Homo sapiens: one gene and its partners. The protein of the gene in region 1 interacts with the protein of each later gene in a pairwise test. Each region holds a gene or a part of one and is shown in the gene's direction. Other genes may lie near its edges. The genes, in order: FBXL17, CLPX, SRBD1, SCG5, TGFBI, SCPEP1 and OLR1.

What was found.
Region 2: the proteins of FBXL17 (region 1) and CLPX interact in a two-hybrid assay, tested with the Homo sapiens proteins (one large-scale study listed by BioGRID).
Region 3: the proteins of FBXL17 (region 1) and SRBD1 interact in a two-hybrid assay, tested with the Homo sapiens proteins (one large-scale study listed by BioGRID).
Region 4: the proteins of FBXL17 (region 1) and SCG5 interact in a two-hybrid assay, tested with the Homo sapiens proteins (one large-scale study listed by BioGRID).
Region 5: the proteins of FBXL17 (region 1) and TGFBI interact in a two-hybrid assay, tested with the Homo sapiens proteins (one large-scale study listed by BioGRID).
Region 6: the proteins of FBXL17 (region 1) and SCPEP1 interact in a two-hybrid assay, tested with the Homo sapiens proteins (one large-scale study listed by BioGRID).
Region 7: the proteins of FBXL17 (region 1) and OLR1 interact in a two-hybrid assay, tested with the Homo sapiens proteins (one large-scale study listed by BioGRID).

The regions. Positions count from the first base shown.
Region 1 is NC_000005.10:107,857,911-107,861,712, reverse strand, and holds the end of FBXL17 (F-box/LRR-repeat protein 17), read left to right. Parts: 3' UTR 1-2,678; downstream 2,679-3,802. UniProt on the Homo sapiens protein: Substrate-recognition component of the SCF(FBXL17) E3 ubiquitin ligase complex, a key component of a quality control pathway required to ensure functional dimerization of BTB domain-containing proteins (dimerization quality control, DQC).
Region 2 is NC_000015.10:65,177,949-65,182,686, reverse strand, and holds part of CLPX (ATP-dependent clpX-like chaperone, mitochondrial precursor), read left to right. Parts: intron 1-2,482; coding exon 2,483-2,643; intron 2,644-3,635; coding exon 3,636-3,753; intron 3,754-4,738. UniProt on the Homo sapiens protein: ATP-dependent chaperone that functions as an unfoldase.
Region 3 is NC_000002.12:45,411,507-45,416,244, reverse strand, and holds part of SRBD1 (S1 RNA-binding domain-containing protein 1), read left to right. Parts: intron 1-2,951; coding exon 2,952-3,131; intron 3,132-4,738.
Region 4 is NC_000015.10:32,686,094-32,690,831, forward strand, and holds part of SCG5 (neuroendocrine protein 7B2 isoform 1 precursor), read left to right. Parts: intron 1-768; exon of another isoform or gene 769-1,252; intron 1,253-4,101; exon of another isoform or gene 4,102-4,170; intron 4,171-4,738. UniProt on the Homo sapiens protein: Acts as a molecular chaperone for PCSK2/PC2, preventing its premature activation in the regulated secretory pathway.
Region 5 is NC_000005.10:136,052,394-136,057,131, forward strand, and holds part of TGFBI (transforming growth factor-beta-induced protein ig-h3 precursor), read left to right. Parts: intron 1-513; coding exon 514-726; intron 727-1,549; coding exon 1,550-1,687; intron 1,688-2,322; coding exon 2,323-2,468; intron 2,469-3,286; coding exon 3,287-3,423; intron 3,424-4,271; coding exon 4,272-4,402; intron 4,403-4,738.
Region 6 is NC_000017.11:57,003,827-57,007,633, forward strand, and holds the end of SCPEP1 (retinoid-inducible serine carboxypeptidase precursor), read left to right. Parts: intron 1-2,346; coding exon 2,347-2,409; 3' UTR 2,410-2,942; downstream 2,943-3,807. UniProt on the Homo sapiens protein: May be involved in vascular wall and kidney homeostasis.
Region 7 is NC_000012.12:10,168,962-10,174,388, reverse strand, and holds the start of OLR1 (oxidized low-density lipoprotein receptor 1), read left to right. Parts: upstream 1-2,256; 5' UTR 2,257-2,311; coding exon 2,312-2,387; intron 2,388-3,392; exon of another isoform or gene 3,393-4,071; intron 4,072-5,213; coding exon 5,214-5,315; intron 5,316-5,427. UniProt on the Homo sapiens protein: Receptor that mediates the recognition, internalization and degradation of oxidatively modified low density lipoprotein (oxLDL) by vascular endothelial cells.

The DNA.
Region 1 (3,802 bases):
GCCTCGCCTAGTCCACTGGGATCATTCAGCAGAGCAGAGGAGAATTGTACATTTGGGGAGCTGATCTCTCGGAAGGGTTTTAACTGTCACCTGTCTGTGTGTGTTCAAGTATGTGTATTTGTGTCTTGTTTGCATACTGCATACCAAAAGTGCAGTTGTCATTTGTTCCCAAGTGAGCTGGCTTTTTTTCTTAGAAATTAAAGATTATGAAAGCCACAAACTTTTTAGTTTTTAACTTCAAAGGCTTCTTTCTCTTTAAAAAAAAATTATTTTTAATATAGAGTCAAAAAATTGGATGTATTATTTTGAGCTTCTAATTGCTGCCACTTGGAGATGTCCAAGTAAGAAGGCCTTCTTTTTACATGGGATGAATTGTGCACTTCTACTGATGATGACTACAGCAGAAGTGATGTTATACGTACAGGCACTTACACTCTCTCACATATTCACACGTGTGCACATCTACACCAGGGCTCTGATCTACTCTAGATCGTTTCCTGACAGAGAAGCCTTCTTCCAGGCCACTAAGGTAGCATGTTATCCACTGTGGCACTGCCTAACTCCGTGTATCCTCGGGTGGCCAACTTGCTATCTGGTGGGTGACTTGGGGACTAGAAAGAATAAAGCCTTTTCTAAATTTGTTATATAGAGGCAACAGTCTGAACTCTCCTGGCCAGCTCACGAAAGTTAATTATACATTATTCTACAAATGCATTCTGTTGAGCACTAAATATTTTAGTTGGTTTTATGTTAACATTGTGTTAGCTTTTATTTCCTGGATAGTAACTGGTCAGGATATATTTTAATGATATTTGAAACTAATCTTAGCATTGAAGCCACCAATGTAATTAATGGTGTGCAGTTATTTTAAAAACTACAGATCATTTCATTATTTTCTTAATTTTGGTAATTATTAAAGTCTATTTCTGAGATACGAGAGGGTAGTCACATTAATAGAAGATTCATGAGTGAGATATAAGTAGACAATCTTTCTACTGTTGTTGCTCTTTTTGCTTTGCTTTGGGTTCTTGAACAGGTTTTTTGGATATATGCATGTTGTCATTTTGGACTAGTTCTCATGCTACTGCAAAGATCTATTGCTAGCTAATATATGAGTTAAGAAAGAAAATTAGAAAATCTGTTCATTGAAATTCTGTTTACACTTGTCAGAAATAAGCATTTCTTTGTTTAATTAAGGATTGCCAGCTTCAGTTAAGACAAGACCTATCAGTAAATGAATATATGTTTTGATTTAACACATCTTTACAATTAATTCATAATAGGGACTCAGGCTCAAATAACTGTTCCTGTGTCTAGATTTATAATGAGGACATCAGGGAGCCTTTTTAAGCTAAAGAGTGATTATCTTTCACAGTAGAACTAGAAACAAAACCCTAACTTGTGAAGTTGCTATTTATTTTTCCCTGAGTGAATATAACTGTTATTTGGTCTTTAACAGATATACTGAGGTTTGAGTTTCACTTTCTTTAAGTCTCACATTGCTAACATGACATTAGCTGTAAGAAACAAGATAGCTTTACATTTGAATGCCATTTACTGATTTCTAATGATTCTCTTTTTTTGTAAACAACTGTTTCCTTTGATTATGTCAACATGTTTCTGATGTGGCATTTTTGTTTTAATCCCAATCGGTTAGGAAAATCTAGTCAGTAAGCGCCATGAGTATTCTTCCCATAACTAAATGGGTTTCTAATTTAATTTGAAGGGAATAAAATTTGTGTAAGAAAAAAGCTGTTTAACATTAATAAACTATATTTCTTCTTACACATTGAACTGTATCATTTTCATATCCACTTCCCCACCACTGAAATATCTTATTTCACAATATTTTAACTGATTTTTAATCCAAAACTAATTTATAAGACAGTATGTATAGTAATAGTAGCTTGAGTGAATATGCAAAAGTTTAATTTTTATATATGTCATACTATATTTTAAATAGTTAAAAAAGACAAAAGAAGGGAGAGCCATCTATGATATAGATGGTACCATTTCAGTTCAAAGTTGTAATAACCTTTGGAGTGTTACAGTTTGGTTGTCAAATGGTTTCAGAATGTATAATTGATTTTTTTAAATGTTGCATTGTTTGAATCTAAAGTACAGCACTATAACATGCTTTAGCTTGGGGGGGTGGGGGTGGGGTGGGGACTTGCACTTATTCTCTAAAATGTTGACTAATCCAGAAAGCCTGATGCAACATAATCTGGAAAACTGCTTTGGTACATTTGTAGAAATCCGTAGAAATACCATATCCAGCCTCAAAGCATTAATCTCAAAAAAAAAAAAAAAAAAAAAAAAAAACAGCCAGAAAAAAGCATCACCTTGAGTGGTCCTGTGATGGTTGTTGAATGTGTTCTCATTAGATGCTTTGAAATGAGGCTTAAAATAATTTTTCTGGGCAATATAGAGTTTCTTTTTTTTGCTTAGAATGTCATAAATACATGTGAACACGTTTAATGCAGGGCTTTTTATTCTCTCCAAAATGTCAACAGTATTTTCAGAATAAAGACTATGAAATATATTGCTGTAGTGGAAAATTCTGGTCCTTTGTCTTTAATGTCTTTTTGAGTGGATAAAGAAAATTCACCCGGTTTGTAGTTTCTATATTTCCGTGAATCTTTGACCTTGCAGTGGGTTGCAATAAAAGAGAAACAAAACACTGTGTCTTTTGTTTTATTTTAGAGACAATAAATGACCTCCCCAATGCTGGTTGGGTATGATGCATGCAGTGGTCTGTGTATTTCTGTGTTTCACTACAGACTTATGTAGGTTTGACTAACCCAGAATAATAAACGAGACTGAGTTTAGGAGGTTCTAATTGGGCTGGTGATTATAGAGATAAGATTAAAATCTCAAGGATTTACATAAGTGTGTATTAGTCCATTCTCATGCTGCTAAAAGGGTATACCTGAGACTGGGTAATTTATAAAGGAAAGAGGTTTAATCGACTCACAGAAAACTTAAAATCGTGGCAGAAGGGAAAGCAAACAAGTCCTTTTTCACAAGGTGGCAGGAGAGTGAAGAATGAGAACCAAGCAAAGGGAGAAGCCCCTTGTAAAACCATCAGATATCATGAGAACTTCCTCACTATCACAAGAATGGCATGGGGGAAACCACCCCCATGATTCCATTGCCTCCCACTGGGTCCCTCCCACGACACGTGGGGATTATGGGAACTGCAGTTGAAGATGAGATTTGGATGAGGACACAGCCAAACCGTATCAAATGAGTTGTTAAAATCCCATTTCCTAAATAGTCATCATTTATATAGCCATATATTCTATTTTTCCAAAGTAAATAAATTCATAAAACATTTATTGAGTGACAAATACGTATAGGCACTGGAAATTTAAAGATAAATGAACTCACTCCCACTCTCAAGTTACTCACAGCCTAACAAGGGGACATTGTGGGGCACTAGCAATAACAGTGGAGTACAATAGATATAATGATGGGCATAATTATGGGGAGCGCATCTAGGGCCGAGCAGCAGCTTTGGGAAGGGAGAGCTCCACAGAGGAGGAGGATTTTCATGAAGGCTAGAGAAGTAGCGGGAATTTACCAGCTTTGCTTGGGGGAAGGAATGGAAGGCAACCTGGAAAATAGAAAAGTATGTGCGAAGGCATGAGGGAATGAGATAGCATGGAAAGAGCAGGGCCCTTGAGGTAACTGAGTTTAATAGGAAGGTATGTTATATAGAGGCAGCAGGTGGGAAAGGTTCCAGGAAGAAAACAAGGGCAAATCATAAACATTTTATGGCCTACTAAAGAGACTGGACTTG
Region 2 (4,738 bases), on another chromosome or scaffold:
CTTGAATAGAATTCAGAGATTCTGTGAACTTTATTTTCACTAAGCTCTAACTGAAACACAACGTTTCCTTGGCCTATGAATGTGGGCAACACATCCACAGTAGTCTTAGAAGTGTCTGTGGATTTGTCATCAATCAAAATCAGAAATATTTTCATATCACATTATAGTTGCTGATATTTCAGAATATTGTCCATACTTTTTGCTACTTTGAAATCATAGTAATTATTTAAAAAGCTGTTAGATCTTATTTAATTTTGCTTGTTAATAAAGAGGCATATTTTAAAAATTTTTTGATAACTACTTCATTATAATTTGTTTCCTTTGTTATGTATTTTATTTTATACATTTAAAAATATTATTCTGAGAAGATCTATTCAGAGGCTTCACCAGACTGCTTAAGGGGTTCATGGCACAAAAAGTGTTAGAAATCCCAATTACTTTGCTACAGAGCTTTATCATTTTTATGAGGATTTTATGATTGGTGAATGGTCATTTTGATTGATTGCATCTGTCACTCTCCCTCAATTACTTTTTCTTTTTCTTTCTTTCTTTCTTTTTTTTTTTTTTTGAGACGGAGACTCTGTTGCTTAAGCTGGAGTGCAGTGGTGCCATCTCGGTTCACTGCAACCTCTGCTTCCTGGGTTCAAGCGATTCTTCTGCCTCAGCATCCCGGGTAGCTGAGACTACAGGCGCGTGTCACCATGCCCAGCTAATTTTTTGTATTTTTAGTAGAGATGGGGTTGCACCGTATTAGCCAGGATGGTCTCGATCTCCTGACCTTATGATCTGCCCCCCTGGGCCTCCCAAAGTGCTGGGATTACTGGCATGAGTCACTGCACCTGGCCCCCTCAATTACTTTTTCTAAGCCTACTTTTGGGATTGATACTATCTTTATTTATTTATTTATTTATTTATTTATTTATTTATTTATTTATTTTGCGACAGAGCCTCGCTCCGTTGCACAGGCTGGAGTACAGTGGCGCAATCTCGGCTCACTGCAACCTCTGCCTCGTTCAAGTGATTCCCCTGCCTCAGCTTCCCAAGTAGCTGGGATTACAGGCACCTGTCACCACGCCTGGCTACTTTTTGTATCTTTAGTAGAGACAGGGTTTCACCATGTTGGCCAGGCTGGTCTTAAACTCCTAACCTCAAGTGATCCACCCACCTCAACCTCCCAAAGTGCTGGGATTACAGGCGTGAGCCATCACACCTGGCTCCTTCAATTTTTTTATTGTGGTAAGATACATATAAAATTTACAAGACTTAACTATTTTTAGTGTATAGTTCGGTAGTATTAAGTACATTGATACTGTGCAACCATTGCCATCATCTTGTGAAACTGAAGCTCTGTACCCATTACAACAATAACTCTCCATTTTCCCCAACCCCCAGGAACCGCCATTCTACTCACTGACTCTATGATTTTGCCTTCTAAGTACCACGTGTAAGTGGAATAACACAATTTTTTAAAGAACTTTTTTTTTTTTTGAGACAGAGTCTCCCTCTGTTGCCCAGGCTGGAGTGCAGTGGCATGATCTTGGCTCACTGCAACCTCTGCCTCCTGGGTTCAAGCAATTCGCCTGCCTCAGCCTCCTGAGTAGCTGGGATTACAGACGCCTGCTAGCACACCCAGCTAATTTTTGTATTTTTAGTAGAGACAGGGTTTCACCACGTTGGCCAGGCTGGTCTCGAACCCTGGGATTACAGGCATGAGCCACCGCGCCTGACCTTAAAGAACATTTGAAGTTTGTTTCCATTGTTACAGATTTTTTTTTTTTTTTTTGAGATGGAGTCTCGCTATGTCACCCAGGCTGGAGTGCGGTGGCACGACTTCAGTTCGCTGCAAACTTCGCCTCCCGGGTTCAAGCGATTTTCCTGCCTCAGCCTCCCGAGTAGCTGGGATTAAAGGCGCCCACCACCATGCGTGGCCAATTTTTTTTTATTTTTAGTAGAGACGGGGTTTCACCATGTTGGCCAGGCTGGTTTTGAACTCCTGACCTCTAGTGATCCACCCGCCTAGGCCTCCCAAAATGCTAGGATTACAGGGGTGAGCCACCACACCCGGCCCAGATAGTATTCTTATATAATAACAGATGAGTTGCTGTCAGATGTTTATTCTCATTGGTAGAAATAATAAGAATATAGGGCATAAATGGCCTTTTTCAAAATCTTACAGGTGAGGCAGATGTTGAAGTCCATTCAAACTTTGAAAAAGTTATGACGTGGGTGATCTTGCCTTATTTCCAAAGGACACATACAGAAAGAAACACCTTTATTTATTTAGAATCTTTCAGAGGCCCAGACCTGCTGGCCTGTTTTTGAAAGGACTTTGCCTCCGTTGGTGTCATTTTTTTTCTCTCAGTTTATACTACTGTGAAAATGATAGCTTTTTTTCAACCTCCTTTATGCTCAAGGAATTTTTGTTTCCAGGGGATTTATTGAGGCATGTCTATATTTGATGTAGATTTCCTTTTATTTTCAGGTATTTCTGGTGGTCGCATTCATATGTCAGTTTTAGGAAGGCTTGGGACATTTGAAACTCAGATTCTGCAAAGAGCTCCTCTTAGATCCTTTACAGAAACACCAGCATACTTTGCCTCAAAAGATGGGATAAGTAAAGATGGTTCTGGAGATGGAAATAAGGTAATTATTTTATCTTATTGGCATCTGTACACATTGTGAGTTCCCTCCTTTAAAAAAATATAACAGTACTGTCTCTTACTGGCTTATATGTTTTCTGTAGGAAATATGAGATAGCTAAAATGATCTGAATAATTTTATGTAATTAGATGTTTCATTTTGAACCTTAAAATACTTTTATAAGCATTGCACATAGTAAGCAGTAATTAAAATTTCTTACACCCCAAAGTAGTAAAGAAGTGTCATTAAATGACAGTCAGTAGGATTGAATTAGGAATAGCCATCATTTCCTGCTTTCATATAACTCTTATAACCCATGGCAGTATAAACCTCACTTTATCCTCTACCTAAAAATTTCAGATTTGTGGTATAACTTAATGTTGGGCTACTCTGGTAGCCTAAAAATTTCATATTTCTGGTATAACTTTATGTTGTAGCTAGTATAACTTATGTTGGTAGTTGTATTGAGTCAGTGACTTAACAGTTTTTTTCATTACGTGAATTTGACTAACACTTGAGTTAATTTTATATGTTAGACAAAATGTGAGACACTTACATATCCATACTTAACAGTGACTCTGATGTGAGTAAAATTATTCCCATTTTAGAGATGAGAAAAGTTAGATCTAAGAATAGTCAGAGTCACTACCTACCATGATAATAACTCCTGATTCAATTTCATTGAAATGTAGTTTTTTACCCTTAGTAAATTTTCTAGTGCCTGAGTCATTGAATGAAAGCTGTTTATTATATATGTTGGCACATGTTATACAAAGGAGGACTGCAGATATATATGTATTTACTAGAACTGATTTGATTTTTGAAGTAAATAGATCTTCTGACACCAGTAATAGAATTATAAAATATACTAATAATTTCATCCTAGAAATATAGAAGATTATAAAATTAATTACAAACAGTATTGTTTACATTTAAGTTGGTTGCCTGAAACTAATAATTGACACTCTTCCTTTTTTCTCCTTCATAAACGTTAGAAATCAGCAAGTGAGGGAAGTAGTAAGAAATCAGGCTCTGGGAATTCTGGGAAAGGTGGAAACCAGCTGCGCTGTCCTAAATGTGGCGACTTGTGCACACATGTAGAGACCTTTGTATGTAAGTATTACATCTTCTACTGTTCTTTTTTCCCTACATTTTCTGTAAATTACTAAGTGTATAAAAATATGTAAATTATGTAAAATGTATAAATATAGGCCAGGTGCAAACGGCTTATGCCTATAATCCTAGCACTTTGGAAGGAGGAGATGGGAGAATCCCTTGAGCCTAGGAGTTCAAGACCTGCCTGGGCAACATGTTGAGACACCTGTCTTTCCAAAAAAAAAAAAAAAGCCAGGTATGGTGGTGCATACCTGTGGTCTTAGCTACTTCTTTTAAGAAGGTTGAGGCTGCAGTGAGCCATGGTCATGCCACTGTACCCCATCCTGGGTGACAGAGACCCTGTCTCAAAAAAAAGAAATATATATATATAAATTGTATTAAATGTGTAGAAATATGGATTATATGAAATAGATAAATGTATGTGACTTTGTATGTTATATAAATTATATGTAAATTGTATGAGCTTACCTGATTCTCTCTTATGTTCACTATATACTAGAAAATCTTCAGGACTGGTAATACTTTGCACTGTTGTGTAAGAGATAATTTAAGAAAAACATTTGCTTCTTTATTTTGCTTACTTGTGTTTATTTCAAATTAGATTTTGTGAATTTCTGGATGTGATCATTAGGCTATAGGAGAACCAAGACTTATTTATTCTGTATTTATTACTACTTTCTTCAAATACATATTGAATATCTCACATGGCTGGGAAGGCCAGTCATTCATATATTAAGGTAATTTCCCTTAGTACTTACCAAAGGAGGTAAGCCCTCAATTCCGGGAAGCATCTGATAATTATTAATGATTCAGACACTCAGAGAAGGAAGAAATCAGGGCTGGGCACAGTGACTCACACCTGTAATCCCAGCACTTTCAGAGGCTGAGGTAGGCAGAGTGCTTGAGCCCAGAAGTTCAAAACCAGCCTGAGCAACATGGCAAAACCCCATATGTATAAAAAAATAAAATTAGCTAGGCATGG
Region 3 (4,738 bases), on another chromosome or scaffold:
AATTTTTGATATGGCTCTTAGAAACACATAGCTAGATTTTGTGGTTTTACTCAATCTGTTATTAATACATTCATATTTGTTGTATTTATTTATATGTTTGGGCTTATTCTTCCTACGTATTTTGCCCCTCCATCATGCTTTCTGATTCTTCTTTTCCTTTTACGCTATTTATTAGATTTATCAGTTAATAAGTTTTCTGTTTCTCTCCTTGTTTTCCCATCTCATCTTTATCTCTCCTTAGTGATTTCAAAGTTGTACATCTTCTATTCTTATGATCATCCTTAAATTGGTTTTGGACTGACCTCTGGAGTTAATAGGTGTCTGTCCTCTTAGAGAAGACTAGAAACAGGATCCTTCCCAATCTTTCTCTCTTCAACTCTCTCTGCCTCCCATGATAAGATGATCTGGGATTTTAGTTTCAGACTCCTCTCCTCTCCTCTCCTCTCCTCTCCTCTCCTCTCCTCTCCTCTCCTCTCCTCTCCTCTCCTCTCCTCTCGTCTCCTCTCGTCTCCTCTCCTCTCCTCTCCTCTCCTCTCCTCTCCTCTCCTCTCCTCTCCCGTCCCCTCCCCTCCCCTCCCCTCCCCTCCCCTCCCCTCCCCTCCTTTTCTCTCACTCTCTCTATATATTTTATACATATATAAAAATATTTTATGTATATTTTTGTTTTTTAACCTATATATACGTATACAGACTATATGCATGTGTATATACGTGTGTATATACATATACACATACACACTATATATACACACTCCTCCATATATATAAAATATATTCTTATAGATGTATATTTTTGTTTTTTAAATGTGTGTATATACACATATACACACTATATGTGTGTATATACATACTATATACACACTATATGTGTGTATATACATACTATATACACACTATATGTGTGTATATACATACTATATACACACTATATGTGTGTATATACATACTATATACACACTATATGTGTGTATATACATACTATATACACACTATATGTGTGTATATACATACTATATACACACTATATGTGTGTATATACATACTATATACACACTATATGTGTGTATATACATACTATATACACACTATATGTGTGTATATACATACTATATACACACTATATGTGTGTATATACATACTATATACACACTATATGTGTGTATATACATACTATATACACACTATATGTGTGTATATACATACTATATACACACTATATGTGTGTATATACATACTATATACACACTATATGTGTGTATATACATACTATATACACACTATATGTGTGTGTATGTACATACTATATAACACTGTGTGTGTACATACTATATACACACTATATGTGTGTGTACATACTATATACACACTATATTGTGTGTACATACTATATACACACTATATGTGTGTGTACATACTATATACACACTATATGTGTGTGTACATACTATATACACACTATGTGTGTGTGTACATACTATATACACACTGTGTGTGTGTACATACTATATACACACTGTGTGTGTGTATATACATACTATATACACACTATGTGTGTGTGTATATACATACTATATACACTATGTGTGTATGTGCATACTATATACACACTATATACACACTATGTGTGTACACACACTATACACACTATGTGTACACACACACTATATACACACTATGTGTGTACACACACTACAGACACTATGTGTGTACACACACTATATACACACTATGTGTGTACACACACACTATATACACACTGTACACACACACTATATACACACTATACATACTACATATATACTATATAGTGTATATGTATATATGTGTATATACACATAATGTATATATATTTACATCATTCATGAGCACTTATTTAATTTAATCAGTTTTTGTGGTTTCTGCACTGTTTCTTGTAGTTCATATCATCATTTTTCTTTGATTTATTGGTTTTTGCTAGAATTAATCCTTAAGAAATTCTTTTAGAGCTTGGTATGGGTTATACTTAAGTCCTTACATACCTGCAAATGATTTCAATTTGCCCTCCTACTTGAATGCTAATTTGACTAGGTATGCGATTCTAAATTCAAAATCATTTTCTCTCAGAAACTTTAAGATATTGTTCCACTATGTTCTGACATCTGATGTTTGCCAGTGAGAAATCTGATGCTAGTCTGATTCCAGATCCTTTTAAAGTAATGTTTTAATTTTCTCTCTTGAAAGCCTTTTAGAATTTTAAAGATTATTTATATTGTAAAGTTTATCCATGATATGTCAAGTATGAGTCTTTTGCTTTTCTTTTCTTTCTTTTTTTTTGAGACAGTCTCTCCCTCTGTTGCCCAAACTGGAGTGCAGTGGCAGGATCTCAGCTCACTGCAACCGCCGCCTGCCAGGTTTAAGTGATTCTCCTGCCTCAGCCTCCCAAGTAGCTGGGACTACAGGCAGGCATGCACCACCACACCCAGCTAATTTTTTTATTTTTGGTACAGACAGGGTTTCATCATGTTGGCCAGGCTGGTCTCGAACTCCTGACCTCAGGTGATCTGCCTGCCTCGGCCTCCCAAAGTGTTGGGATTACAGGTGTGAGCCACTGCGCGAAGCCAAGTATGAGTCTTTTTCTATTCATCCTGTTCTACACTCAATAGATTCTTTTGAGAGCTTGTTTTTCTTAGCTCTGGGAAATATTATTATTTTGTTTCCCTACATTTTCCTCTTTTCTCTCTTAGAATGGCAATTATACAATCAGTTAAGAATGTTTTTGGCTTTAAGTAACAGAAAGCCCTTTTCCCAGTGATTTAAACAAATAAGTGGTAGTTTCTATGAAGTAAAAGGTCAAAATCTGGTTGCTGTTTTCGCATATTTGTATGACAGAGAAGTAAGCACATTTTAATTTGAAGACTTTTCTGCCCAACCTTCCCCTTTTCATAAATGTGGTTTTTTCTGGTTTTATATAGTCAGCAAACTGAAACTTCAGGCCAAATTCAAGGAGTTGCTGTGACATCTTCAGCAGACGTTGAGGTCACAAATGAGAAGCAGGGCAAAAAGAAGAGCAAAACTGCAGTGAATGTTTTACTGAAGCCAAATCCTTTGGACCAAACTTGTATTCATCCAGAATCATATGACATAGCAATGAGGTAAGTCTGAGGCCCATGTGGGAATTCTCCATATGCAGAGTGAGTTCTTTACAGCAAATGGCCTTTGTTTTGGCATAATGGAAACTGAAAAATATGACCGTTTAATGTGACAACATTTTTCAGAAGTTCTGCATTGCTGAGTTATGTGGCACATTATTTCATTTCACTGAGGAATGAAACCATTACTCCTGGAGCATTGTCAAGCTAATAAACCCTGATACTAATGGTGAAGTGTGTGTAATGGAAATTGCATGGCACTCCCCTCTGTTTGTTTTGGAAATTAACAAGACACAATTGACTAGCACCTGGCATAAAACTTGTGCTTTTCTAAAGATAAAACCCTTTTGAAAGTAAACAACCAACTCAGCTTTCTTAATATTATCTTTATTGGTTATTAAAATCTTAAAATCTAAGAAATGATGTACTTTTAGTGAGTATACATTAACAGAATGACATGGGGGAAGTTTTTGAGTAGAAGGGAAGTTTACGGTATAAAAAGAAAAATCTTTTTAACAGCATATTTAATTAGCTTTAAATTTTTTTAATTAGTTCAAAAACAGTGACTTGCTACATAACGACATTTTTTAAAGATTCTTACTGAATTGTATGACAGTGTAACAAATATAGTGAATATTTTAACTTTTATTGAATCTAAAATGAGATTTTTGTTTTAAAATCACTTATATTTGATTATTTTAGTAAATGTCATTAATTTGCTTTCTTTTAAAAATATTTAAAAAGACTATAGTATATTATAGAAAACTTAGAAAAAAGAAGTAAAAAATAATATTCTGTGAACATCCAACTAGTTCCTGGTTTCCCCCAACAGTTTTATGATGAAAAAATTTAGCCATACAGAAAAATTGGAAAAAAAATTTTTACAGTGAATTCCTATATAGCCACACCTAGATGTTATCATTAACATTTTATTCTATCTGTTTTTCCACATATCCATCTACTTATCCATCCATCTTATTTTTTTTTGTCTTGTTTTGTTTTGTTTTGTTTTTGAGACAAGATCTCTCTGTCACCCAGACTGGAGTGCAGTGGTGTGATCTCGGCAACCTCTGCCTCCTGGGTTCAAGTGATTCTTGCGCGTCAACCTCCTAAGTAGCTGGGGTTACAGGTGTGCAGCACCACGGTCTGGCTAATTTTTTGTATTTTTAGTAGAGATAGAGTTTCGCTGTATTGTCCAGGCTGGTTTCAAACTCCTGGACTCAAGTGATCCACCCACCTTGGCCTCCCAAAGAGCTGGGATTACAGGCGTGAGCCACTGCACCTGGCCCATCTTATGTTTTTGATGCATTCCAAAGAAGATTGCAGACAGACATTGGTACACTTTGCACTAAATACTTAAGCATTCATATAATTAACTACAATTTGATAATTCTTTACGATTTTTTTCTTTTGAGGTCACATTTACGTAACAATTAAATTTTAAGTTTATATTAGCTGAATTTTGACAAATACCTACTTCTGTGTAACCAAACTGCTGTTGAGATCAGGAACATTTCTATTATCTGAAAACGTTCCCTTATACCTCTTCCGATCAGTTACTGCCCCAACCTCCCAGAGGTAACTACTTGTTTTGATTTTTTTCTACCAAA
Region 4 (4,738 bases), on another chromosome or scaffold:
AACATTCCTAAGTTAATTTTGCTTCTTCCAATTTGCATTATTCCATTTCCTTCTTTTTCATAAACAGTTCTGTTTGGAAGAATTGGTTTGTGGAGCCACTTTCAAGCCTAGTAGTAGAGCTTAAACATGTTGAATTAAATAGAAAAACATCTATAGGTTCTCGAATAGGAGACTGAAATAATAAAAGCCTTCTATAAAAGAAGTTATTTTGATGGCATATTAAAGGATGAAGTAAAAGGAGAAGAGACTAACCCTAGACAGGAAGAAAATATGGGGAGTCATTTCAGTTATGATGACTGTGAACACCGTGAAGAAGGGTGAGAATCCAAGACATTTTAAAGGGGGAAAAACTAACTAGAATTGGTATACGGAATAAATATAACATGAAGAAGAAAGAAGAGATATGTCAGGTTCATATGAAATGGACAATATGAACTTTTTCTTTGAATGCATTTTAGAAAGAAAGAAAAGAGAGGAATAGAGGGAGGAAGGACATAAAAAAGAGAAGAGAGAGTGAGGGAAAGAGTAGATTGCGGAGGAGTACTGGGAAGAGATCCACAAGAGGTGATCGAAGCATTGCCAAACAGAAGCAAAAGCCAGGTTCGATAAGGCACAAAGAGAACACATTGAGCCTGCTGTGTTCCAGGCACTGTGCTAGATGCTCAGTATGCAGGAGTCATCAGGACATGGTGCTGGTCTTCAGAGAGCTTATAGTCCCACGGTTGAGATGAATTGCATGAAAATGAAATGAACCCAACTTAGCACCGCTCCACTTCATGTTTCGTCTGTATTCTGAGGGCCAGGGGCAATTATTAGGGAAGATGGAAGACAAGGGTAGAGGAAGATCCAGAACTGAGGACTGGTGTGGCTGATTGGGGTAGTAGCCACAGAGGAAGTCAAAGGCACTAAGGAGGGCAGCACTGAAGTTTCAGGTGGGAAAGTCTTCAGCTTCACCAGTAGGCTAGGAATGAGAGAAAGAAAGGAGGGAGACTGAGTCAAGGTGTGAGTGAAGGCAAGGAGCCCAGTTGGTGGCATGATGAGGTGGGAGGGATGAAAACATCTCTTTTCAGCTCTCTTCATCTCTTCTTGAAAATCTTCACAGATTTCTCTCATCAAATTCCACTCACTTCCAGTGCCCCAGTATGAGGCCAACCACGGTCCTTCATTCTCTGTGCTTCCTTCTCGAAACACTGACTTGAGTTTCTCTCAGTGTTTCCTATTCTTTGTCCACATTAGAGCTAAAGACTAGAATCTAGGATCAAATGTAAAAGGAAAATATTAGAGATCAATGACCAGGAACAATGTTTAGATACCTTTTATCATCTGCAATTATGTGTTTACTTAAACTTAGGTCTCCTTGTTTATTTTCTCATTACTACCTACCAGTAAAACATTGTTTCCTTGGTTTTCACATGGAAGTGGGAATTGAGTATGTCTTGCTTTTCTAAACTGGGAACCACAAACCTTCCTCAGTGCTTATATGGAATGACAGTCTCAAGCTTGTCTTCAGCCCAGCCATCCTTTAAGTTAACAGAGTCATCATCTTTCATGATAGAACAGCACAAAGACCCTGCTTCCTTATCTGCTAATAACGCTTCCTTGTTTTTGACAGTAGCTGGAGCTGAGCTGCATCTTTAACAGTGATTCACATATTACACATTTCAGTGTCTGTCTTGTTTCCTGCATTTCTCTCTTCGTTAGTGCATCAAGACACATTTATTAACGACACATCATATGCCTTCCGGGCCCCGTGTTAGGTAATGGGAATACAAAGATGAATGATAATAGTAATTGTATTACATAATACATAATACTATATAATACAATAGTAAATAGTAATATTTATTGACCACATACTATATGCCAGACTCCTTTCTAAATACTCAGTAATCTTATTCAATCTGCCCATCCTTGTCATTCTCACTTTCCAGATGAGAAAATGCAGGCTTGGGGAGCTGAGGAGCCTGCTCAGCCCACAGAGCTGGGATTTGAACCCCATCATCTGACTCCAGAGTACTTTACAAGCTGAATACATTCCCTATCTTTTCATGGCTCATTGCTCCTAACCTGTCCTGTGTGGTAGTCCTATTGAGTCCTACCGAGGGCTGGCTGCCTTCCAGACAATGTGTGTGACTACACCAGTGGTGACCACACCAATGGCTGGCTCCTGTACATGCCAGCTACCCACTCCCCCTTTACACATTAACTGCTGAGTGTTATTTACTTAAGAAAAAGTTGTCTCAAAAAGCAAATATTTTTCCTTTCCAAATGCTTTCACACCTTTTCATCAGTAGCTGATCACAGCCAGAGCCTGAGCCACGGGGATATGAGGGACCAGACCCCTCCCTGACTTGCTTTGTCATTCCTGACCTTAACATGTTTGATGAGTTGAATGCTCTTCAATGTGGATTTGACTCAGGTTTCCATGTGATTAGACCTGCTTAGTATTTTATGTCCTACTTAGTATTTTACATCAGCAAGCACATGATGTCAGGGAAGTTTGTCTCATGACTGGCAGTGTTCACTTTGTTAAGGTGCTGCCCTCCAGGTTTCTCTGGTGTAAAATTCCCTTAGAAATTAATAGGCCGGGCACAGTGGCTCACACCTGTAATCCCAGCACTTTGGGAGGCCGAGGCAGGCGGATCATGAGGTCAGGAGATCGAGACCATCCTGGCTAACACAGTGAAACCCCGTCTCTACTAAAAATACAAAAAAATTAGCCGGGCGCGGTGGCGGGTGCCTGTAGTCCCAGCTACTTGGGAGGCTGAGGCAGGAGAATGGCGTGAACCCAGGAGGCGGAGCTTGCAGCGAGCCGAGATAGTGCCACTGCAGTCCGGCCTGGGCAAAAGAGCAAGACTCCGTCTCAAAAAAAAAAAAAAAAGAAATTAATAGTTACTCTGTGGGAAGAAGTTTTGGGGCTGTGTAAATATTCTGCTCCTCGTTCAACTTTTAACCAACAAATATAACATCCATTGATGATGCTTACCAGATTCAATAATGATGATAGCTGCAAAATGATGATTTTCTTACTCCGCTATTCTTTCTGCATTTACTAGTTGACATTCTATTCTAAGCAAGAGTTTCCCCTGCTGTTCTATTTATTTATTTATTTATAAATGTGTTTATTTATATAGTATAAGTATGGATTCATGGATTCCATAATGCATATTATTATGTATTCTGGTGTTCAAACTGTCCTAAATTTGGCCAGTGCGAGTCTCCTCAAGCTTTCTTTTCTTTCCTTTTGACAGGACCTCATCATTTTTTTGAGCACTTCTTTATTTTCTGACCTAATTAGCTATTCCATCTTCACCCATCCTTGCACTTTCCTTCCTAGCCCTGGAATTAGACTTTTCTCCAGGAAGCTCCCTGGCTGTATTTAGGAGTGTAATTTGAAACCAGGATCTGGACAGTTGTCCAAAATCTTGATGGCACTATGGAAAGCCCTTTTAATGAACTTGAACCTGCTACTCACATGGAAAACAGGCTCACCACTCCCCAAGGAATCAACAAGGAATGGGCGTGAGGAGAGATAGCTGATTTCTTTTCATTCAATTTGTATGCTTCTCTTACCCATACCATACCTGCCAATGCCTTCAAGTCCATACAATAATAGGGCTAATTAAGAATGTCCCAGACACTTTCATGCAGGGGTAGGGAAGCATTATCCTGCTAATCCTAACCCTAGCTCTTAAGGAGACACAGGGACCATCTTTGAGAGGAAGATTAGCCAGGCCTTTTGCATTTCTTTTTTTTTTTTTTTTTTGAGACGGAGTCTCGCTCTGTCCCCCAGGCTGGAGTGCAGTGGCGCAATCTCAGCTCACTGCAAGCTCTGCCTCCTGGGTTCATGCCATTCTCCTGCCTCAGCCTCCTGAGTAGCTGGGACTACAGGCGCCCGCCACCACGCCCGGCTAATTTTTTGTAGTTTTAGTAGAGACGGGGTTTCACCGTGTTAGCCGGGATGGTCTCGATCTCCTGACCTCGTGATCCTCCCACCTCGGCCTCCCAAAGTGCTGGGGCACATTTCTTTTTGAATGAAGACTCTTATGGGTAGGATCTGCCCCCAAGATCTCCTAAAGAATTAAATGATGCTGGCTTTACCTGGCTGATGGCACAGTGGAACTCTGCCAGAGCTGGCTGACAGTCCCACCCCATGGTAGTAGCTCTCAGGTTCTTCCACACTCCATCCAGCTCAGGCAGCTGAAAACAATGGTACACATGAAGAAGACATGTCCTCACCCCTTCCCGGCCTTCCCAGCTCTAACACCAGCTCTTCGGATATTCTCTGCCTCAGGAGTTTTTACGTTCACAGAAAGGCAACCACAGACTGTAGAGAATGAGCCTCACAGCAATATCCTCATTCCTCAAGGAAATGATCTGCAAGTCTGCCTTTTCTCCCTTCCGATATTAAATTGATTTATTCCCCAAGTGAGCAGGAGATAGAGGCTGTAGCCAGTACTGGTGTTTTTGGTAGTAGAGGCTCCTTCACTCTGGCACCGCCTCCTTGCATAGTTGAGGTTGGGCAAGAGATATGCATTGTAAATTGCAGGTGGGGTAGATTTTAATGAACGTGAAAAATGATGAAGCTCATTCTTGGCATTTGTCATTTTCAATTCCAAATCTATCACTAAAAATAAGTCTTTATAAGTGGACAGCTCAGAGGATACATGTTGTATAAACTTGTTCCTTACCAGAACTCTGTGGTTGTCTTTGTTTTTTTTTTTTCTTAATGTCAGAG
Region 5 (4,738 bases), about 28 Mb from region 1:
TCATTTGTACACTTTTCGTCTTTTCCTACTACAGTTTACATTTTTATAAAGGTGAGTAGATTTCTAAAATCCCGTGGTAGGCTCTCTTGAGTTTTTCTTGTATCCCTGAAGTTCAGCTACAAATAAGCTAATCACTAACATTTGTTGAGCATTTACTCTGTTGTCAGGCCCCGTGCCGAGTGCTTTAGGTTCAGAATTTCATGTCATCCCCACAGCAGCCCTAGGAGATGAATGCAATTCTTATGTCCACTTGACTGATAAGGAAGTTGAGGTTCAAAGAGGCTAAATGACTCTCCCAGGGTCCCACAGCTGGAAAGTGGCCACAGGGCCCCAGCTGGTTTTCTAGGGCAGCAGGCAGAAGGCGAGGAGGATCTGGGCCCTGTGGTGCCCCAGCCTCATCTGAGGGTCCTCATCTGAGAGAACAGGATCCTCACAGCATGGGCAGGCTGCAAGTGGTCCCTGAGGTTATCGTGGAGTGGACCCTGACTTGACCTGAGTCTGTTTGGACCCCAGACCTGCTGAACAACCACATCTTGAAGTCAGCTATGTGTGCTGAAGCCATCGTTGCGGGGCTGTCTGTAGAGACCCTGGAGGGCACGACACTGGAGGTGGGCTGCAGCGGGGACATGCTCACTATCAACGGGAAGGCGATCATCTCCAATAAAGACATCCTAGCCACCAACGGGGTGATCCACTACATTGATGAGCTACTCATCCCAGACTCAGGTAGGCCAGGCCTCCGGGGGCCTTGGCCCTGCCTGGCCCACCATCTCTTCTGCCATCCTTTGTGGCGGGGGAGGGGAAATTCAGAGATCTTTGGGCGACTTCCCTGCCTGGACCCAGCTCACAGCTTCTCGGCCACTGCAAATGTGTGGGTTGTGACCAGACTGATGTGTCTTGAGCTTCAGGCTTGCAAGTGCAGTGGAGAGGCAGTGGGGAGCTATTGAAGGGGTCTGGGGACAGACTCAATCACAGAGGCCTTTCAGAAGATCTGCCTGCTGTGCATGGGCAAAGAGGGCCACTTGCTGACCTCAGAGCATGTGCTTTCTCAGTAGTGCCCAAGCTGTCCCATGGTCACTGACCCAGTTAGAATGACTGAATGGACTTTGGCTTGTGTCTCATTAGGAATCCTAGCCCCATTCTAGTCTTCCAGTGAGATCTGTCCATGAGTGAAGGAATCTCACAGGAAAAAACAAAATGCTTCTATGGGTGTGGTTGCTGGCCTTATCTACACCACAGAAGCCATCACACAGACTGTCTTTCTTCCCATTGTTAGAATGTGCCCTGACCAAGCAGCCCACAGGGCCTGGGACAGAGGCTGATCTCTGCCTAACTGAGCTCACCTCTCCTCCCTCTCCTCCTGACTGGTTAGATTTTCTAGGTGACTGTTCCCCTGATGACACAAGCCCGCTGGGCCCCAGCAGTGTTTAGAGGGGTTGTTGACTCACGAGATGACATTCCTGCTGATGTGTGTCATGCCCTGGGGTGGATGAATGATAAATGAAAACAGCGCTTTTAACTTTTGAACCCACTTTCTCCTTCCTTGTAGCCAAGACACTATTTGAATTGGCTGCAGAGTCTGATGTGTCCACAGCCATTGACCTTTTCAGACAAGCCGGCCTCGGCAATCATCTCTCTGGAAGTGAGCGGTTGACCCTCCTGGCTCCCCTGAATTCTGTATTCAAAGGTAACATGGGGAAGGCATCCCTGTTAGATTGTCCCTGGAGGCAGCTTCCCCACCCCTGTCACCTCCACAACACTCTCCGATTTACAGCACCCCATGGGACATTAGAACTTCCACTCAGCTCAACCAAAAGCAGATGTGACTTCAGCAGAAACTTCAGAGGCTCTGTTGTTTCATTAGGCAGTGCAGAGAATGCCTTTGGGGAGCCGTTCCTCAGAACTCAAGACTTGACATCTGGGAGGCAGCCGTTCCTCAGAACTCAAGACTTGACATCTGGGAGAGCAGAGCATTCCCTTGCCTTTCTATTTGCAGGGTCACTTGCCAATGTATAGTCAAGAGGTCAGAGTGAGGGTACAGCTGAGCTGCAGCCCCAGGAAGGCAGAGAAGGGGGCCAAGTTGTGTGCGTGCCTGCCCTTCCCTCTTAGGGCAAAACTCCAAACACCCTTGATTATCTGGATCTTCTTTAATTCTCCATAGAAGATACCAGATGTTAAGGAATATTGGCAGCTTCACTTGGTTTCTCAATCCCTGTTTCCAAACTCAAGGAGGGATGGGCTTTTTCACTGTATTTATCTCTCATCACTCTCTTCATTGCAGGAGCACATCTCTCTGGACCTAACCATCACCCTTTCTTGTAGATGGAACCCCTCCAATTGATGCCCATACAAGGAATTTGCTTCGGAACCACATAATTAAAGACCAGCTGGCCTCTAAGTATCTGTACCATGGACAGACCCTGGAAACTCTGGGCGGCAAAAAACTGAGAGTTTTTGTTTATCGTAATGTAAGTTCTGGGTCCTAAATCATGCTCCTGGGAAGCTCCTTACTGTGGGACTTGTATTAGTGTAAAAAAAAATGTCCTCAATAAGCAGGAGTTTGCATGAGAACTGGTTGCTGACAAGGAAGGAAATAATTTCTGGAAAATATAGATAACAAAATGAGATCCTGCAGAAGGATTGGAATCTCTTTTTCTGGAGGCCTTTGAGAATAAACCACACAATTATCCAACCTGTATTGTGAAGGAATAAGTCCTTCTTGAATTCAGGAATTAACACCTGGGAGGAGGGATGGAGTTCAGACTCTTTCTGAGCTTATGAGAAGAGAAGCCCCCTAAACTAAAATACAGCCCTCCTTGGTCCAAAAGGTGCCTTCTCTCTTCTGCTGTATCTTCTTTGTTTTCAAACCCAACAGTTACCCTGGAAATCAAAAAGGAAGTACAACTCAACATAGCTCTTGCCTGGGACCAACCAGCACCATTTGGCTAAAGATGGTTATCATCTGTTAAACAAAGAAATAAATAAATGGGTTCAACGTATTTATTTCAACATTGTCAATGGACCTCATGTGTAACTGATATTCTCATTATGGGACCTCTGTGTGACTTTATTGGGGCCTCTCTAACCGTTCTTTCCTTAAGGAAGACCATTTATTGTTTTATTTCCTGGAGAAAATACATCATTTTATCCCAGCCTTAATAACCCATCCCAGTGTATACTCCTTCATCTTCATGGATAATGACCCTGCTACATGCTCTGAACAAATCAGGAGGCCCCTCGTGGAAGTATAACCAGTCCTTTCTTTCTCTGTCCCTCTTCTGTGCAGAGCCTCTGCATTGAGAACAGCTGCATCGCGGCCCACGACAAGAGGGGGAGGTACGGGACCCTGTTCACGATGGACCGGGTGCTGACCCCCCCAATGGGGACTGTCATGGATGTCCTGAAGGGAGACAATCGCTTTAGGTAATTAGTTCCATCCCCGGGTGGAGCTTCTGCCCAGTGGTCATGCTGGAGTGGGATGTGGGGCCCCAGCTATTTGTCAAGCTTTCTTCTACCTTGGGGATTCAATTAACACTAGCAGTGCACTGCTGCGACCTTCCAGACTTGGGATGGGGAAAAGGCAAGGGTCGCCTTGAAAGCTTACATTGGGAAGAAGGGTTACTTCTAAGAGTGTAATCTTCACATGCATGGGAAGCAGGGAGGGGGGACTACATTTTTATGACTGAAGTGCAAGGAAAACATCACCCTCTCATTGTAAAGCTCCAAGTGAGCCAAGAGCACATAGTTTACAGTGCACGATGAGCCTCTCACTCTCTGCGCAGTATCTGTTTATTGCAACTGAAGCACCCTTGTGAGTTTGTTTTCTTGCCCGGCTATCTCCATTTCTGACTTGCTCATTCACCTTGGGGTGCTGTCATATTGAATGTTTCCCTGTCACTGACTTCAGCCACCTGCACAAGGGCTTGGAGACCACACCCCTCTGCCCTCCCAGAATCATATCCCTGGAGGCTCAGCTAGTCTCTGGGTCAGCCATACCTCTGCCCTTTCTTTTCCCTCCTTTCTCCTGTGGCCTCTGACGTCTGGCCATTTAACAGAGCTTAGCATTTTTGCTGGGTGGAGAGAGCTGGAGCCTGGAATCACTCCCTCTTTGTGCATACGGAGGGCATGAAAACCAAGGTGTGTGCATTCCAGTGGCCTGGACTCTACTATCCTCAGTGGTGAGGTATTTAAGGAAAATACCTCTCAGCGTGGTGAGGTATTTAAGGAAAATACCTGTTGACAGGTGACATTTTCTGTGTGTGTATCTACAGCATGCTGGTAGCTGCCATCCAGTCTGCAGGACTGACGGAGACCCTCAACCGGGAAGGAGTCTACACAGTCTTTGCTCCCACAAATGAAGCCTTCCGAGCCCTGCCACCAAGAGAACGGAGCAGACTCTTGGGTAAAGACCAACTTAAGTACACGTCTCCATTTTTCTAAAGTAGTGATCCCTCAGGGCCCCAGCAGCAAACAGTTGGCACATCAAGGATTGACTTGAAGGGATTTTATGACAAGACTATTAGTGAAAGAGTGGGCGGGACTAAAGGAACTAGCAAAGGATGAGGCCAACCAGGGACTAGCAACCCTGGGAAGCCTTTACTACCCCTAGGCCTGGGGGAATGGGAGGATGAGAGCAGGAACCAGGGAGGTCATGAGCCTTGGACAAGGGCACAGAACAGCAGCCAGAGCCATGTGCAGCCAGCCACTGTCAGAACCATGCAAGGGGGACCACTCAGCG
Region 6 (3,807 bases), on another chromosome or scaffold:
GAGAAAATGAATGAGTAGTGAGGAGAAGAGACAGTAGCTTCCTTTAAGAAGCCAGAGAAAGCAGCCCACTCTCAAAAGACACTTAATCTAGGCTGGGTATGGTGGCTGACACCTGTAATCCCAGCATTTTGGGAGGCGAAGGCAGGTGGATCACCTGAGGTCAGGAGTATGAGACCAGCTTGGCTAACATGGAGAAACCCTATCTTTACTAAAAATACAAAAATTAGCTGGGCATGATGGTGGGCACCTGTAATCCCAGCTACTCAGGAGGCTGAGGCAGGAGAATCGCTTGAACCTGGGAGGCAGAGGTTGCAGTGAGCCAAGATAGTGCCATTGCATCCAGCTGGCGAGATAGCGCCACTGCACTCCAGCCTGGGCAACAGAGTGAGACTCTGTCTCAAAAAAGAACAAAAATCAACTGGGCGCGGTGGCGCCTGCCTGTGGTCTCAGCTGCTCTGGAGGCTGAGTGAGGTGGGAGGATTGATTGAGCCTGAAAGCTTGGGTGACAGAGTGAGACTCTGTCTCAAAAAGTAAATCAATAAATAAACAAATAGACTTAATCTAAAGGGAGAACAAACAAGGCAGCAGGGCACAGAGGGAGAGGGCATTATTTATGGCTCTCAGGATCTGAGTACCTTCAATATTGACTAAAAGAAAGAAAATTAGAACGTCTTAGAGCAAGCACTGTTACAGGTTGAGTACCCCTTATCTGAGATGTTTGGAACCAGAAATGTTTCAGATTTTTAATTTTTTTTTTATTTTGGAATATTTGCATATCCATAATGAGATATCTTGGGGATGGGACCCAAGTCTAGGCAATGGAATTCATTTATGTTTCATATACACCTTATACACATAGACCGAAGGTACTTTCGTACAATATTTTAAATAATTTTGTGCATGAAGCAAAGTTTGTGTGCACTGAGTTATTAGAGAGCAAAGGGTGGCTATTTCAGCCACCCATGGCTCTTCAACCAATCTGTGGTTGTTAGGCATCATATCATTTCTGACTCCAAATTTATATGCTGCCGATAAGCAATCTTTTTCTTGCATGTAGTCACACATAAGTACTTCACAGTAAGAAATACAACATACCATTAATACAGTGGAAAAGTTGTGTGTTCAGAGTAACTGAGCAGCACAGTAGCATGACCAGAATACCTGTGTCAGCTGCTAGACAACAGCAACAGCAAGCAACAGCAGCTTTCGGTCTCTACCTACAATGCTGTGTTTTGATTAAAAGGTTACTGTACTGTAACCCCCTTGGGGATGCAGAAATAAACTGTGTGTTGTGCGCCTGCATTTTGAATGCAGCCGCCCATGGGGCAGGTGTGAAATGTTCCACTTGTGGCCTCATGGTGGCACTCAAAAAGGCTGGAATTGTGGAGCATTTTGGATTTTCCAATGAGGGATGCTCAGCCTGCCCTAGAGAGAAGTCCCTGACGAGGCTGGTAGGAAGGCATGGAACAAGCCAACCACGCGCTCTGTATACTAGAGTTCAGGCCCATTTCCTGTTGGTTTGTCACATATAGAACAACAGATCAGTTGGGGACAGGCTTAAAATAGCCCTTGGAGACTGTTGTTAAGTCGTCCCCAAACCACTTCCCCTTTCATTGATTAAATGACATTTTAGGATAACCCACCTTGCCTGTGCCTCCTGGGGACTCTTGGCAGAAGAGTCAAGGATGGGTGTGCCATAGAGAATCATGGAGCCAGGGAATTACATAACGGGGAGACCATATACTCCAACCCCTTCTGTGTAGGGAGAAACTGAGGCCTCTGCCCTTCCCCCTTTTGATGCTGTGTGGGAAGGAAATTTTAAAGGACTTATTCTAAAAATCTGAGGGAAAACAAAAGAAAGTTGAATAACTGCGAAAATCGGATGCCACCCAAAGGGCCCTGTTTGTTTTTATTATTTGCGGCTCTCTGCTGTGAGCTCCCTTCTCAGCCATTTCTCTATTCTCAATCCGGGATCCCTTCTAGACAGATGCCTTTAAAATGTTTAGAATCTTCCTTCTTCCTTGAACAGGCTAGGTCTAGTATCATTAGCATGACCCTTACCAAGAAATCAACAGATCAGCTCCAAATGGAGTAGAAGGTTCTTGTCTTAAATGCTGACTTCTCCAGGTCCCTGCCACCCAGCCCAGTCAGGGCCCAGAAGAGCTTTCATCCAGTGCAGGAGTCATTTTCAGGAAGGACCCTCTCTCAGGGATGTGCCCAGGTGTCTGCACAGGTTGCTGTCACAGAGCTGGCTCCCTTTTGGGAGCAAGGTTTCAGGATGTTGCCTCTGACCCCAGCCCCAGGAATAGCACCAGGAGCACTAACTCAGATGTTGTTTTTTTCTAGGTTCCTTCTGACCAAGGGGACATGGCTCTGAAGATGATGAGACTGGTGACTCAGCAAGAATAGGATGGATGGGGCTGGAGATGAGCTGGTTTGGCCTTGGGGCACAGAGCTGAGCTGAGGCCGCTGAAGCTGTAGGAAGCGCCATTCTTCCCTGTATCTAACTGGGGCTGTGATCAAGAAGGTTCTGACCAGCTTCTGCAGAGGATAAAATCATTGTCTCTGGAGGCAATTTGGAAATTATTTCTGCTTCTTAAAAAAACCTAAGATTTTTTAAAAAATTGATTTGTTTTGATCAAAATAAAGGATGATAATAGATATTATTTTTTCTTATGACAGAAGCAAATGATGTGATTTATAGAAAAACTGGGAAATACAGGTACCCAAAGAGTAAATCAACATCTGTATACCCCCTTCCCAGGGGTAAGCACTGTTACCAATTTAGCATATGTCCTTGCAGAATTTTTTTTTCTATATATACATATATATTTTTTACCAAAATGAATCATTACTCTATGTTGTTTTACTATTTGTTTGACATATCAGTATATCTGAAACACCTTTTCATGTCAATAAATGTTCTTCTCTAACATTTTTAATGGCTGTGGAGCATTCTACTTTATGGTTGTACTCTAGTTTATTTACAAAATTCCCAGTTGTTTCCGACAAGTATAATAATTTCTAGTTTGTTGCTATTATACATAGTGCTCTGTTGATTCACCCTGATAGTTAGATTTTTTTGTACCTCCTTATTTTCTTAGAATAAATTCATAAAAGTGTAATTATTTAGTCAGAGGATTGCCACATTTCCTTAAAATCAAAATAATTAGCTCAGGACTTTTAACTTTTTATTCATAGCTCAAGATCTACATAAGGAGGTTTGATGCCGTGGCTCACACCTATAAACCCAGCACTTTGGGAGGTCGAGGCAGGAGGAATGCTTGAGCCCAGGAGTTCAACAACAGCCTGGGCAACATAGGGAGACCCCATTTCTACAAAAAAAATAAAAACATTAGCCGAGCATGGTGGCACACACCTGTAGTCCCAGCTACTCAGGAGGCTGAGGCAGGAGGATCACTTGAGCCAGGGAGGTTGATGTTGCAGTGAGCCATGATCAAGCCACTCACTCCAGCCTGGGTGACAGAGACCCCATCTCAAAAAGAAAAAAAAATCTGCATAGGGGATCTAACAGCTTCTAGGACTGTCTGAAAGAAATATCACCTCTTGTAGTTGCAGGGCTGAGATTTTATTTATTTATTTATTGAGACTCTGTGACCCAGGCTAGAGTGCAGTGGCACAATCATGCCTCAAATGATCCTCCTGCCCCAGCCTCCCAAGTAGCTAGTACCACAGGCAAGCACCATCACATCCAGCTAATTTTTAAAATTTTTTCGTAGAGTTGGAGTCTCACTATGTGGCCCAGGCTGGTCTCGAACTCCCAGGCTCTAGCAATCCACCTGCCTT
Region 7 (5,427 bases), on another chromosome or scaffold:
CCATGACCCAGTCAAGAAGACACAGAAGGCCAGCACGGTGGCTCACGCTTGTAATCCCAGCACTGTGGGAGGCTGAGGCAGGCGGATCACTTGAGGACAGGAGTTCAAGACCAGCCTGGCCAACATGGTGAAACCCTGTCTCTACTGAAAATACAAAACAATTAGCCGGGAGGGGTGGCGGGCACCTGTAATCCCAGCTACTCAGGAGGCTGAGGCAGGAGAATTGCTTGAACCCAGGAGGCGGAGGTTGCAGTGAGCCGAGATCATGCCATTGCAATCCACCCTGGGTAACAAGGGTGAAACTCCATCTCAAAAACAAACAAACAAACAAACAAACAAAACACATGAAATTCACCATCACAGGAGTTATTGCTTGGTGGGTATAGAGTTTCAGTTGGGGAAGATGAAAAGTTCTGGAGATGGATGGTGGTGATGGCTGCACAACAATGTAAATGTACTTAATGCCACTGAACAGTACACCTAAAAATGGTTGAAATGGTAAACACTTTATGTTCTATAATATTCATGGCATCCAAAATAACTGAGTCACTGTAGAAATGATAATGTGCCCTTTTCAGTGTGATATCGTTTCAGTATTTTTTAATTCTTTTTTTTTTTTTTTTTTAAAGGGAGTCTCGCTCTGTTGCCCAGGCTGGAGTACAGTGGCACAATCTCAGCTCACTGAAAATGAAAAGCATTTTCATTTTCCACCTCCCAAATAGCTGGGATTATAGGCTTGCAACCAGGCCCAGCTAACTTTTGTATTTTTAGTGGTGACAGGGTTTCAACAGGTTGGCCAGGCTGGTCTCGAACTCCTGACCTCAGTGATCCACCCCCCCCCTCAGCTTCCCAAAGTGCTGAGATTACAGGCATGAGCCACTGCACCTGGCCAACTTTTTCAATTTGTTCTCAAATACTCTGCACATAATAAAAGGAATATAGGAAACAGGGAGGAGGAGGGAAATGGAATCCTAATTAGGCTGTCAATATTGGTAATTTTTCCTAATAGTTTCCTATATGTTTTATTTATGTATTTATTTTTCCATTCTTCCTTTGTGTATTCTTTTCTTTGCACTTTTTTTTCCTGGAGTAATTTAAAGTAAATGCCAGATATCATATCATTTTGCTTATAAATACTTCCTTCAGAAGACATCTCTAATAGATATATATCTGGTTAGGAGGTTGTCAAGGGAAAATAGAAAAGTATTCTATCAGTAAATACATATAGACATACTTATGGGTCTCTCATGTAAGCGTCTTTGTGACATGAGTCAATCATGGATTTTACTGAAATACATTATTTGATGGGTAATTCAACTGTGCTGAATATTAGTACTATACTAATAATTATTATTTATTGGCTTCTTATTATGCTCCAAGTACAAAGCTTGTCATTTTTAACCAGCGTGTCATTTGAATTCCTATAGCAACGTGACATTTTTCACAAACCTAGTGTAAAAAAGCTTATTATTTTTACCCAGCATGTCATTTGAATTCCTATAACAATGTTATCAGGTAGACATTATCCCTAATTTCCAGACATGTCATTTGAATTCCTATAACAATGTTATCAGGTAGACATTATCCCTAATTTCCAGACAAAGACATAGATTCAAAGTATTAAGATTTCCCAAGATTGTAGACTAAAGGAAAGTACTGAAACTAGCTCTTTCTGCATTCAAAGTGCTCTCTGCTGCTACGTTACACTGGCACTGCATGAACTAGTAGCCCCAGATAAATTCTAAAATCACCCAGGACACACCATCGCTGGAAATGGGAGCCATATGTGATTCACCCCAAAATTCTTAGATCCATTGCCAGATAAAACAGTGAAAATCAAAAGAGAATATATCTGATTCGTAAAAGACACCATATAGAAACAGTCTGCTAATGAAATTAGCAAACAAACATTGGAATCAAATATTTTGGCCCATAATTCTGGCACATTTTTTACAAATGTAGTGTGACTTACTCTCTTTGAATTTCAGTTTCTGTCTCTGAAGAGTGGGTACAATATCTCTCCTCTGATGCTCATGAAAAATAGTTTTCCCTTTCATAAATTACTTAGCGAAATATCCTGAAACACCTTCAGAATCACCACTTTCTCCACCTGCAATACACATAACTCAAGAATTTGCGTCAGCGAACTTCCCAATATGAAGCAAAGCCTCTCCTTCCTCCTACCAATGATTGAGTCATTCTTCTATTAGATAACAGTAGCTATTTAAATACTTCTGCAGAAGCTCACATATTTTTAGTTTGTTGAAGTTCGTGACTGCTTCACTCTCTCATTCTTAGCTTGAATTTGGAAATGACTTTTGATGACCTAAAGATCCAGACTGTGAAGGACCAGCCTGATGAGAAGTCAAATGGAAAAAAAGCTAAAGGTACTAGGGATGGGAAAATGTGTACAGGGAAAGAATCCCAGTGTTAGCCCCAAAATGTAAATTCACCGAAGAATGGGATTAGAAAGCTAAACACCCAAGTATGGGAAAATAGAATTAATACCATTTACTTAAAAGAAAAACAAGAAGGCTATAATGATGATGATGATGACAACTTATTTATAACAATTTATACTGAGTATTTACTACAGGTTATTCTATATGTTATTCACTTTCAGAGTATTATTTCTCAGAATCTTCGCAATAACATTTTGAGATTGGTACTATTACTATCTCCCTTTTACAGAGAGCTAACTGGGCATCAGGAGGACTAACAACATCATCCAGTTTCACGGAGCTAATAAGTGGTAGAGCTAGGACTGTACCACAAACTCCCATTTATCCAGAATTCTATACATCGGAGGGCTCGGGAACCAAATTTATCTGGTGTATATAACGATAATTTCTGTAAGAGTCCTTCAGGCACTACAAAAACCTGAAGTACCTCATGAATTATGCAGGCAAAGTAAATGATATTCAGTATAGTTTAGCATAAGTTACATTTTGTTGTGTACTACTGCTTTGAAAAATTGTAAGTTCTGTTTGACCCATACAGTAATTAAATTGCATAGCTATAAATTAATTCATAATCCCAATTCCACAGACAATCTGGGTAAATTGCCTTTTATTCTATATCTGTTCTGAGGAAAATGAACAGAATATAAGGAGAGAAAGAGAGACAAGTATTGTCAGAAATTTGGATAAAGAAATTCCAAATTACATTTCCAAAAACAAAACAGAAATTTCTCTCAATAGAGAACATAAGTGTGAGCATGGAGTGATTTAACATTTGAGCCAATGAACTAAATTGCTATAAAAACTGCTGATATTTATAGGTAAAACCAGAAGTGAACAATAGTCATTCGTTTCTTTACTCATTCATTATTTGTGTAGTAAATATTGAGGGTCTGAATTTTACAATAATCATGAGATTGATTTTTCTTTCAGAATCTTGGTTAGATCGGTACCTACTGCAAAGAATCGGATTGGTTTATGATTGGAAAATCACTAGTAGGGGCAGCAGTTGGATTAATGGTCTCTGCCTACCAAGGACACAGGACAAAGAGAATCTATAGAAAAAGGGAACACATACCTTCCTTCACAGGGTCCTGTGATTTTCTTTTTCCTCTAAAAATTTAGTTTTTCATTATTTAAGAGTGATGAGGCCAGGCGCGGTGGCTCACGCCTGTAATCCCAGCACTTTGGGAGGCTGAGGTGGGCGGATCATGAGGTCAGGAGTTCGAGACCAGCACGGTGAAACCTCATCTGTACTAAAAATACAAAATTTAACCTGCTGTGGTGGTGCGCGGCTGCAATCCCAGCTGCTCAGGAGGCTGAGGCAGGAGAATCACTCGAACCCAGGAGGCGGAGGTTGCAGTGACCTGAGATGGCGCCATGGCACTCCAGCCTGGGCGAAGAGCAAGCTCCCCCTCAAAAAAAAAAAAAAAAAAAAGAGCACGATGAGGGTATCTGATGCCCTACAATGTGGAATGAACAGTGACCACAGAGTTGAAAGATTTACATAGAGGTATTTGCCCCTGAGGCTAGAATTAGGCAATTATTTGCAAGAGACACAGCTATCTTCTACAACTTCTCTGCTAGCTTGCCACACACACTCTAGAAGCCAGTAAGTATTGAATCAGAAGATGAACCATATTTATCCCTGTCAAGTTTCTATCTTCTTTTTATCATTTGTGGAGTCTAACACACTACCTTTGACATATGAAAACTTTGAATATATCTGACCACTGCTTGACTGGATCATTATACATTCACACTGGAAATTGTATTATAATATTTCAAGTCATGTAGCTACTGACAATTAGACTAAAGACTTATTTTTGGGTTTTAGCATCTGTGTGATCTTAAGCAAGTCACTAAACCTTTCAGTCTCCTTATTTGCATACAGAGGATAATGATAGGAGTACCTTATTTGTTTATCTCACAAGGTGAGGAAACCAAATACATTGTATGGGATGTTTTCCTACACAACCAGTAATATCTGTGATTTTTTTTTTTTTAGTGGTGGAACACATAATTGTATATTCATACACCTGTGAGCTATGTGATTTTTTTTTCAAAATGGTGAATATTTCTCTTGTAAAATCAAGCCTACACTTGGCGTGAGTGTAGGATATGCTGTTAATATAAGCTAAATTAATATCAAGGTTTCATCCCTACTTTTCTTTGATTAATAACCCCAGTTCCAGGTTGTAATTTTGGTGGACTCATAATTGAATAGCATAAAATTATTCATAAAGTTATTTGAGGTAATCTCAGTTGATTAACTGAAGAAAGCTTGTTTGCTTGATGTCTGATATTTATGTTACTTTTGTGTGCACATGTGTACACGTGGTGTATATTAAAAACTTCAGGCTCTCTGCACTGTGGATGAATTTGATCCAACCAAGCTAGACTGTGAGTTTCTTGAGGAGTAATTGTCGGGAAAGTAGATAAAGTATAAGCTTTAGAATCATATATTTAGATTCAAATATCTGGTATCGAATCCTGGCTCTGAATTTACTGGCTGTGTGACCATGGGTAAATTACTTAAATTCCTTAACTCTCCCTGTTTTCCATTCCTAAATGTGTATGATGAATTATTTGCAGAGCCATTTGGAGGACTAGTGGTATGGAATGCAAACTATTTATGTCTATTTACTAAAACATAAACAGAGTAAATCACCAAGTACAGACAGGCTCCAAGGAATGGTTTGCTTACTTGTTCACTCTTTTTTGTCTTTCTGATTCTATCCTCTGTCACTCTAGGTCTTCAGTTTCTTTACTCTCCATGGTGGTGCCTGGCTGCTGCGACTCTAGGGGTCCTTTGCCTGGGATTAGTAGTGACCATTATGGTGCTGGGCATGCAATGTAAGTGCTAAAATACGGAACTGATGTTTATTGGGGCAGGGGTGTTGGAAATGAGGTTAATAAATATGGTTTATAAGTTTCTTTCATAACAACTACAAACAGCCTTGATATA